2 separate regions of the Homo sapiens genome follow, and region 2 is linked to region 1. The links come from fine-mapping of genetic effects on gene expression. Tissue or cell type: cerebellum. Region 1 holds a variant in brackets; the other region holds the start of a gene. All regions are shown on one strand. Distances are from middle to middle.

The links. PIP is the estimated chance that this variant, and not a neighbour inherited with it, causes the effect.
Region 2: CNTN2 starts here. The variant in region 1 is fine-mapped to the expression of CNTN2 in cerebellum (GTEx, PIP above 0.99). The same link has a PIP of 0.9 or more in cerebellar hemisphere.

The regions. Positions count from the first base shown.
Region 1 is chr1:205,013,064-205,018,799 of GRCh38, reverse strand. NFASC (neurofascin) reads right to left here. Exons shown (of 30, transcript NM_001005388.3): 30 at 1-2,492. The coding sequence ends at 2,261. Among named protein-coding and RNA genes, the nearest start is that of CNTN2, 27 kb to the left of the region's middle. RefSeq lists enhancers at 1-17, 18-815, 4,186-4,737. The variant C/T (reference allele first, on the strand shown) is at 3,356.
Region 2 is chr1:205,041,262-205,046,073 of GRCh38, reverse strand. CNTN2 (contactin 2) reads right to left here and starts at 2,862. Exons shown (of 23, transcript NM_005076.5): 1 at 2,680-2,862. RefSeq lists cis regulatory regions at 3,004, 3,096 and enhancers at 2,932-3,076, 3,024-3,168.

The DNA.
Region 1 (5,736 bases):
CTGGCATGTACGGTGCAGTATGGAATGAGTGTCTGAGAAACTGACTACTCTGCTCAGATCCAAAGCGTTTTCTGGAAAGGCCAGTCCTTTAATTCAGCTCACAGGCACACTTCCCTGACATTCCCTTCAGGGACAGTGGGCCTAGTATCCAAGCAGGTGTTGGAGGAAATCCAGGGGAGGGGCCCTCCAAGCTCACACCCCACCCCCTGCTGTTTACCCTGTCCCCTTGCACTGTGATAAGCTGCCCCTCAGGCGTCCAGGCAGCAGCCCTAGCTGAGGCTTGGCCCAAATGACCATTACACACTCTCAGGTTCAAACAACCTTATTGGCTCAGTTCTGGGCTATGGTTTCTTACCAGCAGAGAGTGTGTGTCTATGGGCTTGACCTTCAACTGAATGATTATTAATGATGCAAGCATTGCTAATACCTTTGCGGCTTAAACATGTGGCAAATGTTGCTTTAATAAAGTCACGGAAGGACAGAGCCCTGGTCTGGCCCAGGCCCCCTGGCTGGCAGCCGGAGAGGCTCAAATCGGAGGCTGTGCCCATGGCAGCTGATCCATTCCTGGGGATCAGCTTCACCCTCCTGAAACTGACCTCAGCTGCAGAAACAGCTAAAGGGTTCCTCTTAGACTCAAGATCTCCCCCTCTCCTTCTCTGTCTCTGAGGCTAGGTACCTTTGGTTTCAAAAATGCATTAGGTGGGGAGGATGAAGGCAGCACCTTCGGTCTGAGAACTGCAGGTCTGCGAGTGTCTCCATTTGGGGTGACTGGTGAGGACGTGTGTTGAGTGGCCACTTCTGGTCCTGCCGGAACACTTGCATAGGCTGCCCTGCTCTCCTGGAGATAGACGTTGCTGGAGGCTTCAAGGCTTGCAGGGGGGGAGCTGGGAACCTGGGAACTCCAGGGACAGATCAGCGCTGCATAAGGCATACAAAGAGCATTGAGTCCTCCCTAGGTGGGGGCATCACAACACTGAGTACGGTGCCACCTCAGGGTCCCCTGATATGTATACACCCCAATGAAAGGGCAGACCTGCTCAGTCTTGGGGCAAGTCCCCATCCACACACCATGTCAAACAAGAGCCTCAGTGTCCTACAGAATTGGCTGAGAAGATGATATCTGCTAGAGATGGAAGGGGAGCAGTGCCTTATGCCCCAAACACACCAGCAAAGCTTTTGCATCACAGGGTTCCATCTCCTCGAGGGTGGCAGCATGGGCCCTGGCCACGTGGACAGGTGCCCTCTACTCTGGACAGGGTGGGTGTGGCCCTCTATCTACATCCTGGGTTTCACCAGTGAGGAGGCATGAAGTCCAAACCCAGCCTTTTTCTTCTCTCTAGAAGTGAGCACAGTGCCCCCAAGACCAGACACCTGATTTTCTTCTGCTGGAGGTACACAGTCACTGGCGTTGAAGTCCTTTCTATCAGTGCCCACTCCTGTTCCTCAAACGTCTTCAGAGTCAATGCAGCTCACATCTTAGATATTCCAGAGAAAAGGGCAGGGGAGGAATGAGGAGCAAGAGGTAAACACACCTCCCAACCAAACCAGAGAGCAGCAAGGAGGCCTGCGCACCTTCTCCCTGCCAAAAATACTGTCATTTTCCAGAAAGGAGCCAAGCCCAGCTCAGCAACTGACAAGGCCGAGGCAGAGGGGCTGGGGGCCAGGGGAGGCATATGGCGAGAAAGGCATCCTTTGGAAATGCATTGGCCCAGAGGTGGTTTGAATATTACAGCCTGTCTACGTGTTCTGGTATGGATTCAATCCTTTTTGCCTATCTTTGCAAAAAGGATTCTCCTGGGGGAGAATCCACTTATTCTTTCTTTTCCAGGGACTCTTTTTCAAAAGGAAAAGAAAACAGAGACATTGGGTCTGGAGGGGAAGATGCACAAAGCGAAATTAAGACAATGAGAAGTCCCGTAACCAACAGAAAAGGTGAGCGTGTGCCGAGGCCAAGGGCGGACAGTGTGGTGGAACGCTCGGGGTGGCTGCGAGACCGGGCAAGGGGCCAGGCTCCCTCCAGCTGAGCTCAGCCACGGCTCCAGCTCTCCCACACTGGTGGCACCCGGGGCTGAAGGGGGGTCATTGGGAGGGGGCTTGTGGGTGGCTTGGTGGCTACTGGTCCTCACAGCTTGGCAGACCCCCATATCGTACCCTTGTTACTGAAGGTGGTGGTGGCTTCGTGGTAGGTCTGCAGTGGTTTTGTCTCCCCTTCTCCCCTCCTCCCACTTGCAAAGTGGTGGCTGTGCCTGGGTGGGCTCCGTTAGGCCAGAGAGTAGATAGCATTGACAGGTGACGTGGCCTCTGAGCTTTCGTTGCCCTCTGTTTCCTCCTTGTCCTTTTTGACCGTGTACTGGCCGATGAAGGAGCCGTCTTCATTGAACTGACCCTCGCCACCCTCGCCATAGTCCACCAGGCTGTCGTCACTCTCCTGCTGCTTGATGGTGCCGTCCAGAGATGTCTGACTGCCCTGCAGGGGCTTGTTGTCCTCATCACTGGCCAAAGAGAGACAGAGAATCTCAGGTGGGGTGAGATGGGGCAGCTGGCCTCCTGCCAGCACATGCCCTACACAGCTCAGAGAGGATGGGATCCAGGAGACCGCCCAGTCCAGCCCCCGCTTCACCCTCCCCTGTCCAGCCTGCTTTGCAGAAGGGAAATGGAGGCCTAGAGAGGACAAGCACCTTCTCTAAGGTGAGGTTGCAGGTCAGGGCAGGGCAGGGAGTGGAGCCCATGCTTTTGGGCTCCTGTTCTGGGTCTTTTCCATGAGATTGGGTCCCTGTGTGTGGTGGAAGTGGACAGAGGATGGCCACCCCATGGTGAGGCAGAGCCACTGCTTGTGAGACCACATGGAATGGTTCTAGTCCCGAGTGTGTCACTGTGTGGTTTTGTGACCTGGGCCTCAGTCTGTCCATCAAGAGGGGCTGGCCCAGCTTTGATCTCCCAAGACCTGTGACTCTGTAGGGAAACACTCTCGCCTTGACAACAAGCAAGGCTTTTAAAGGAACAAACCTCTCCCTCACCTCTCTGCTTGTCTGTCTTGGTGTCTTTCGCTGAGCTATCTGGTTGATCTATAAAAAGATGTTATTGCTTTGGGCCTAGCAAGCACAGGTGCGCAAGAGTGGTGGTGGTGGGGGGGCACACAGGTAAGCAGGTGATGCCAGCAAACGTGAGAAGACAGCAAGGCTCAGAGGATCATGCCCAGCCCCTTCTGAGGCCCATAGGCCCTGACCCTAAGCTCCCCTTGTGCAGGGAGAGCTGGGAGGCTGCCGAGTAAAGCTGCACGGGCCGCTGGGAACAGCCACCCAGTTGGGATGTCTGCTGTGCTCCTGAGGAGGCGCGGGGCTGCTCTCTGAGCCAG[C/T]GTCTGTTCAGGCACCATGTCCCTTCCCTTGGCTGGAAAGGCTCAGAGTGGGGACCAGGTGGTGCTGGCTGCACTTCAGAGGTTAGCCCAGTTCCTGGGCAGGAGGCAGCTCAGGATGAGCAGTGGGAGTCTGGGTCTGAGCAGTGGGAGTCTGGGTCTCAGTGGTGGGACCATAGCGGTGCCAGGCGGTCTGAGCAGACACACACCACACACTGCCTTGCCCCCAGCTCCCCACCCACCCCCAGTCCTTCCTGGACGTGGGGAAGACAACCAGCTGAGTTGCCATTATAGTGGGCAGTGCGTTCTCACTTCTAATAGCAGTGTCGGGCAAAGACAGCTGTCAGGTGAGGGCAGCGAGCCAGAGCCGGGGCTGTGTTAGAAGATTGAAAGCTATTAGCCCACTCCCCACAGTGCTGCCCCACGAATACAGCCTAACTGTATTCGTGGGACAGCCGTGGGTTGGGAGATGGTGTGAGGGAGGCAGCTCTCTGGGGCTGTGCTGAGTTTGTGCAGGAAGCGGAAGTCACTGTTTGCCAACTGGAGGAGGGAAATCGCCAGGCTCCTCACCCCACTTGCAGGTCTTATTCGCATGCACTCCTTTCCAGGGCCCTCTATCCCATGTGCAGGGGCATGAGGACTGTGCTATGGGATTTGTGGGAATTCCTCCTCTGTTTCCAGGCAGCTAAGCTAAGTGCAGCCACTGGGCAGCAACAGCCCAGCCAGTGGAAGGGGCGGGGGAAGAGATCTGTAGCATGCCAGGCTGTTGAGGGGACGGGGGATCTAGGTCTGAAAAGAACAGACCGAACAGACCTCTCCTAAGGGAAGCTTGAAAGAAACTAGAATGACTAGGGGTGGCCCTGGTCTGGCCACCTGTCAGCCTCACTTCTGAGACATCTTCAAGGTCTAGGTGGATGGATATAGGGGAGAAAAACAGAGGGTGCCCCATGGGAAAGGTGGTCGGCCACTTAGCCACAGACTGGAGTGAGAGAACAGCACTCCTCGCCCCTAGGCCTATCCTCTCTAGAAACTTAGTTCTTTCTCTGATGTATTAATTTCAGCCTTTTCCCAGGTTAGGGCTCTTAGACTCATCCAAGGGAGGGCTCTAGGATGGATGCTGCGGACCTTCCAGAGCCAAAGCAGAGGGGTGTGTGCGTGTAGGGGTGCAGGCCCAGGCATGCTCCTGTGCGTGTAGACCCAGGGTCAGTGTCTGCGGGGAGGAGGCAGGGGTTTTTGCCTGACAGCTTTGGTGTCTGGGGCAGGAGAGGTGCATAAGGAAGCAACTCCTCGCAGTACAGGCTGCCCAGCCTTGTATTGGAGGAGGTCCAAGCTCCTCCTCTCTGGCTGCACCAAGAGTCTGGGGGAGGAGAAGCCCTGTGGCTTTTGGAACAAAAAGCCAGGGAAGTCTCAGCCCACAGGGAAGCTGTGTCAGGGAAGCCCTGCCAGGGAAGATGGGAAGGGGGCTCTTGTGCCTGCCCTTTCAGGATGCTTCTGGGAATGTCGGGACTAGGTGGACAGTCATGGCCCATAAGCCTGCAGACAGGCTCCTGTGTGGGCAGTGGCTCCACCACACATTGATCTGATTGTGCTTGCCAGGCTGATGGGCAGAGTGGCAGAGGCCCAGGACAGGAAAAGGAGACTGTAGCAGAGGACAAGGGGACCTGGGCCCAGGCAGTAACTGGGTGGCATGAGGAGGGAGGGCTCTGATCAGACATTCCCTCCCATAGCACTTGGTCTGGGAATGACACTCCACAGCCCACTCTGCATCATCCTTCAGCTCAGAACATACTCGCCATCTCCATGGACCCACAACAATGTTGTTAAGCCCACATACAAAGATGCATCCAGGTAGGACAGGAGCATGGGTATAGAAGTATAGAATAGCAGCACCAGCTGGAAATGCGGGACCTGGCCTTTCCAGCTTTGCCACTAACTCACTGGGTGGGGACCTTGGAAGAGTCTTAGACAATTCGCTTCCTGGTCTGGGCCTCAGTCCTCTCATCTGGGGCATAGGGCACTGGACCAGAAGCCTTTCCAAGGCCCATTCCAGTCTAGAGCCCAAAGATATCGCCAAGTTCAAGGAGAAACGACCTGGAATCACCCCACCTTCATTCCTTGAGGCTTTAAGACATCACAGCCTCCCAGGGTCATTATCTTCAGGGTTAGGAATGGAGTGTGGGCAGAGAATCAGCATGAGAGCTGAGCTCATCTCACGGCAAGAGGGTCCTGGGGCTCATGTTCAGAGTGAAAAGGTGGAAAGACATACATAGCAAGCTTGATACATTTGAGTTGTGCAGTTGAATGAATGAAATGCTGTTCGTCAAACTAATGCACGCATGTGTCGGGCAGTGACTCCTGGGGGAGCAGCCTCGTCTGGCACTCTC
Region 2 (4,812 bases), 28 kb before region 1:
GGGTGGTTTGTTTAGATTGGGGTTGTAGTCCTGAAGGATGAGGGGGTGGCCAGCATGCATGAGGGGATGAAAAGGATGTCTGCCTTCTTATGGATTCCTGAGTCACATCCACCTTTTACCATTTGAAAGAGGATTACTAGAAGTTGGAAGAAATTTACAGGGTCAGCCAGCCCAACCTTTGCCTCTAGGCAGGACTCTCTAACCTTGGACCAGACCCCAGTTCTCCACACCATCCTTAGAGTCATCTGAAAGGAGACTGCCCCACCTCCTCATGGCTCACTCTTCTAGCCAGGAAGTGTCTCCTGCAGTCTAACTTAAGTCCCTCTGGCTTCCCTGGCATATTCTTTGCTCTGGTTCTTCCTCCCCTGCATATCAATCACCTCTTCTCCAACCCCCTGGTTCTGCCCTAGGAATCCCTCCAAAAATACAAATACCACCCACACTCAGGCTTAGAGATTGTCTTTGAAATACGCTTTCTCACCAACGTTTGGCTCAAGGAGGTTTCTGAAGAGGGCACCATGCATCCTCCAAACCACCCCAAATGCGTTGCTTCCCTGGTGACTTTAGAGGCAGAAAGGATGCCTTGGGGTACACCTGTCTATGTACATGCTCCTAAGGAGTAAGTTTGGTCAGCCAGAGACGAGATGTGCAATCACCCCGTTAAGCACAATTCCTCGGAGGCCCATCCCACATGTGTCTCTATTTGAACAACTGCTGGCAGAGAAGGTGCTGGAATGGAGTTGCATAAGGAGTGAAATCTGGCAGGGGAAATGGTGGCGGCGGGAGGCTGAGGGCTGAAGCCGGTGGAGTACACGCGATGAGAGAAGGGAGTGCGAGGAAAGAAGGAGTAGAGGAAGGGAGGAGAGTAAGAGAGAAAGAGCCGGGAATGAGAGCAGACTCCTGGAGTCTGAGGCACTCATCTGCATAAGGAGTGTGCCTCTGCTTCCCTCACCGCTCATGGTGTGAGCACAGTGGTCTCTGCACCTGTGAGGCAGGTGGACCTTGGGTGACTTTGACATCATCAGGTCAGGGGCCCTTTCCTGTCTGTCTCACCTCCTGCCTCCCTCTTATTCGCTGAGGACTTCCACGGGAGATTAGGAAGGACTCTGACCTTGTGGCAAAAGCCCTGTCCATGGTTCTGCAGCTTGGCTAGAAAGGGGTTAACTGGTGGGCACCCTGGGGAGGGGCTTGGATGCTGCTGTCTTTAAGGGGAGAGCTCCCTTCTCCCAAGGCCAGGAGTGAGGGCACCTGTTGTGACCTCCAGGCCATCTCCCTGTCCAGGTGCGATCACAGCAGCCTCTCCCACAGGTGGCCCACCTTTTGCTGCACTCGATCTCCAGTGGCTCATCCGGCCCCTCTGAGTGGGACCAGGAGGTAGAGAGACTCGGAGGCTAAGTGAGCTGAGGCGTCTTTGGCCAGACGGTTGGGAGAGGAGGCCGAAACTGTTGCCCAGACGAGACCAGAACATCACCTGTGCACTGGGTTTCTTGGGCTGTTCCTCCTCCCAGCTCCTTCTGAGCAGAGGGAAAAGATGCTGAAACCCACCTTTCTCCAGGGCTGGGGCCATGGCATGCACAACCCCACTCCCTCCTGGCCTCACTGGACCCCCCCCCCCAGGACACAGGCTCAACCCCCAGGGGTCTGGGGCTAGAGGGTGCCCGTCTCCATCCCCAAGTAGCAGCAGGATTCTCCCCTTCCATAGGCACTGCCTTCTCCATGCCCCGCTGCTTCCCAGACCTGAGAGACCCTCTTGGAGAAGGTGACAGGATTCAGCTCTGGACACTCACTGGCTGGGGCTGCCCCCCACCTCCAGCCCATTATGTAAGCCCCACGGTGCTGGGCAGAAGGATTGCCCTCTCTTTCCAGAACTCCCCAGCTCTGCCCCTTCCCTTCCCCATACCATTCTGGCCCCAGCCCCTTTCCTTACTGGAAAGCCAAACTTTGTGCAAATTCTTCCCTCCCACCAGTGAGGATGGGGGGGAGGGATTTGAGGAGAAGCTAAGGTTGGGAGGGGGAAGGGAAGGAAAGGAATTTCAGCCCGGTAGCCCCAGCCTCTCGCCCTTTGGGATGTGACTGGCCTCAGGACTCTCCTCCCCGAGTCCCAGTTCCTGGACAGGCCCTTGCCCAAACTTGTGCTCCACTCTCCCCTCTCTCTTCCACAGCCCCCCTCTCCATCCAGCTGAAGCAAGACTTTGCAAAGAGGTCACCCTGCAGAGGTAGACCCTGGGTGACCTCAAAACTGGGGACTCCGGCTCAATTCCATGCAGGGACTTCTGGGGCAGGCCAGGGCCCAGGGCCTGGCTGTATGGACTGGTCCTGTCCTGGACCGGGTGCCCAGGGCCGGCCCAGGAGAAACTGCCCTCTCCACAGGCAGCTGCCACTGCCCGCTGGCCAACTGGAATTCCTGGACACACTCCTGGGGTCCAGCTTTTCGGCCAGGCTCGGCCTGAGAGAGCCCTGCGGGATGCCGCCCACGTAGACAGGGCGGAGGGGAGCCCCAGCACCCACCCTGGGGCTGAGGGGAGAAGTCAGAACGGCCCCAGCCTGCCAGTGTTCCTGTCCCTGTTCCCTCCCAAGTTACAAGGGGGATATTTACAGGAACTGAGCCGGGAGCCCCGGCCCATAACAGCACGCAGGGAAGTCCCTGGGTTGGAGGAGACAAAAGCGGTTGGCACCTACCTGGGGCGAGAGAAGGGTGTTGGCTGGGGCAGGTGGATGCTGCCCGAGTCGGTGAGCCGGGGCCGGCCGGGCCGCCAGCCCCTGTCTGGGCCGCTGTCCTTTGGGCCCTGGCGGCCTCAGCCGCTCGCTGTCCGGGTGCGGCGGCGGCCGCGGCGGCGGTGGCGGGTGAGGGCGCGTGTGTGTGAGCGCGCCCGGAGCCACTGCAGCATCTCTGCATCAAGATGTGCTCCTCCCTCTCCCAGGCTCCGCTCACTGGCTGGCTCTGGTCCTCAGCCAACGCTCGGGGGCCCTGGAGATGGCTTCCTTCTGCCCCCCTCCCACCCCACTTCCGTCCCCACCCTCCTGGCTTTACCTCATTTGCTGTCATTTAAGGACCAGGGAGCGAGCCCAGCGCGCGTCTTCCATAATGCATGGGCCGCTCATGGACAGGCCGCGGGGCGCTGTCTGGCCCGCCTGCCCTCCCGATCCTGCCCAGCCCCACTTCTAGTCCCCCTGCCCAGGGCTGAAGGGGCAGGAGAGGGGCGGGGTGAAGAGGGAAAAGAAAGTGGCTCTTACTCCTCAAACCCTGGAGACCCATGGAGCCAAAACTCCTGGTTTCCCCAGAAATCCCCTATCCGAGGAAGAGATCCAAATCAGAAATCCCAGCTTGCTGTGTGGGGCAAGTGGCAGGGAGGGGCTGTCTCTGTTGCCCGGTCCACCCCATGTTCCTCTTTATTGTTTCCCTTGTTCAAAAGTAGTTTGAGCTTTTTGTCAAAATATCTAAATATTAGAGGACATTTAAAAATACATAGTGAAAGTCCCTCAACCACTACTCTTAATAAATCTAAGTACATGCCCCCAGGTTTATTATTTTCGTGTATACAATTACATGGGTTAGTAGGGTTATTTCACACAAATGTGATTACATAAAACAGTAGGATTGGCCAAAGACTTTTAACTGTGTAACTGATCTTGGACACTTTTACGCATCAGTACGTTTGGATCCAATCCCATTTTTAAGCAACCAGCAGTGTGATGTCATGAAAAGCTCCCTGGATTAGGGGTCTGGGTGTCTGAAGCATACTCTGGGCTCCACAACCGACTGGCTGTGTGTGCTTGGCTAGGTGCCCTGCCCTCTCTGAGCCTCGCTGGTACCTGAAGGGATTAAAGATGGACACAGTCCTGCCAGCTCTGAGATTCTAAGTGCTCACCCTTGTCAGCGATGCCTTTCTCCTGCCCTGCTCCGGTCACGTGGGGGAGTGCCCAGGAAGGCTGTGGCCCGGAGGCGGAGGGACCAGCCATCTGCGGCACCAGTCGGCCCTGTCAGGCTGTCACTGTTGTCTCACCCCCCTCTGATCTGCCTGCTGTCCAGCTTGCACAGGCAAGACCGGTGAGCAGTCCAGATGCTGCAACAGCTGGCAGGGCCAGGCCAGCCTCCCAGTTTTAAATGGCTATACCTGTCAAGCCTGGATCATGGCTCCATGTCTCCCTGAGTGGAGGAGGTCCTGGGGACCTGGGCCAGAATGAGAGGGTCTGGAAAAGGAGAAGGAGTCGGGGAGGTTCTGCTGCTCAGCCTCCAAGGCTGGAATGTCTGCCCAGGTCCCACATGCGCTCCCCTCCTTTCCTTCTGAGCCCCTCCAAAGGGCTTGCCCAACTTGAGAGATAGTCTTCTTTGTTCCTGATGGGGAGGACTTGGATTTTGCTAATGATGTTTCTTAAATAATGTTGAATGCTGTTATATAGACAGACACATCAACCCCTTGCCAGGATATCTTTCCCTTCCTTCCCCTGCCCACACTGTCCTTGCCTATCTGTATGTCTGAGGGCTGGCACATTGGCTCTGAGCTCCTGAGGTGAACCTTGCTCTTTGGCACCATTCAAGTCAGCCTGGGCTCCAAAGAGAGGCTCTGCAAGTTCTCTCCTAGCAGAAAACGGCAGGAACAAGTCCTTGCCAAGAAAAGGATGCTATGTCTGCTGCAGGGGGCTGACGGGCCAGGAAATAGGCTGGCCCAGGAACCAACAGTCTGGAAATGCTTGCAAGGATTGCTTTAGACGGAGACAGCTGTCTTTGTGACTCTATTTTAGGACAGCTGCTGCCCTGTGGTGGGAGCTGGGTCTCTGGGGAGGGTCGTTAGCACAGGTGACTTGGGTCTT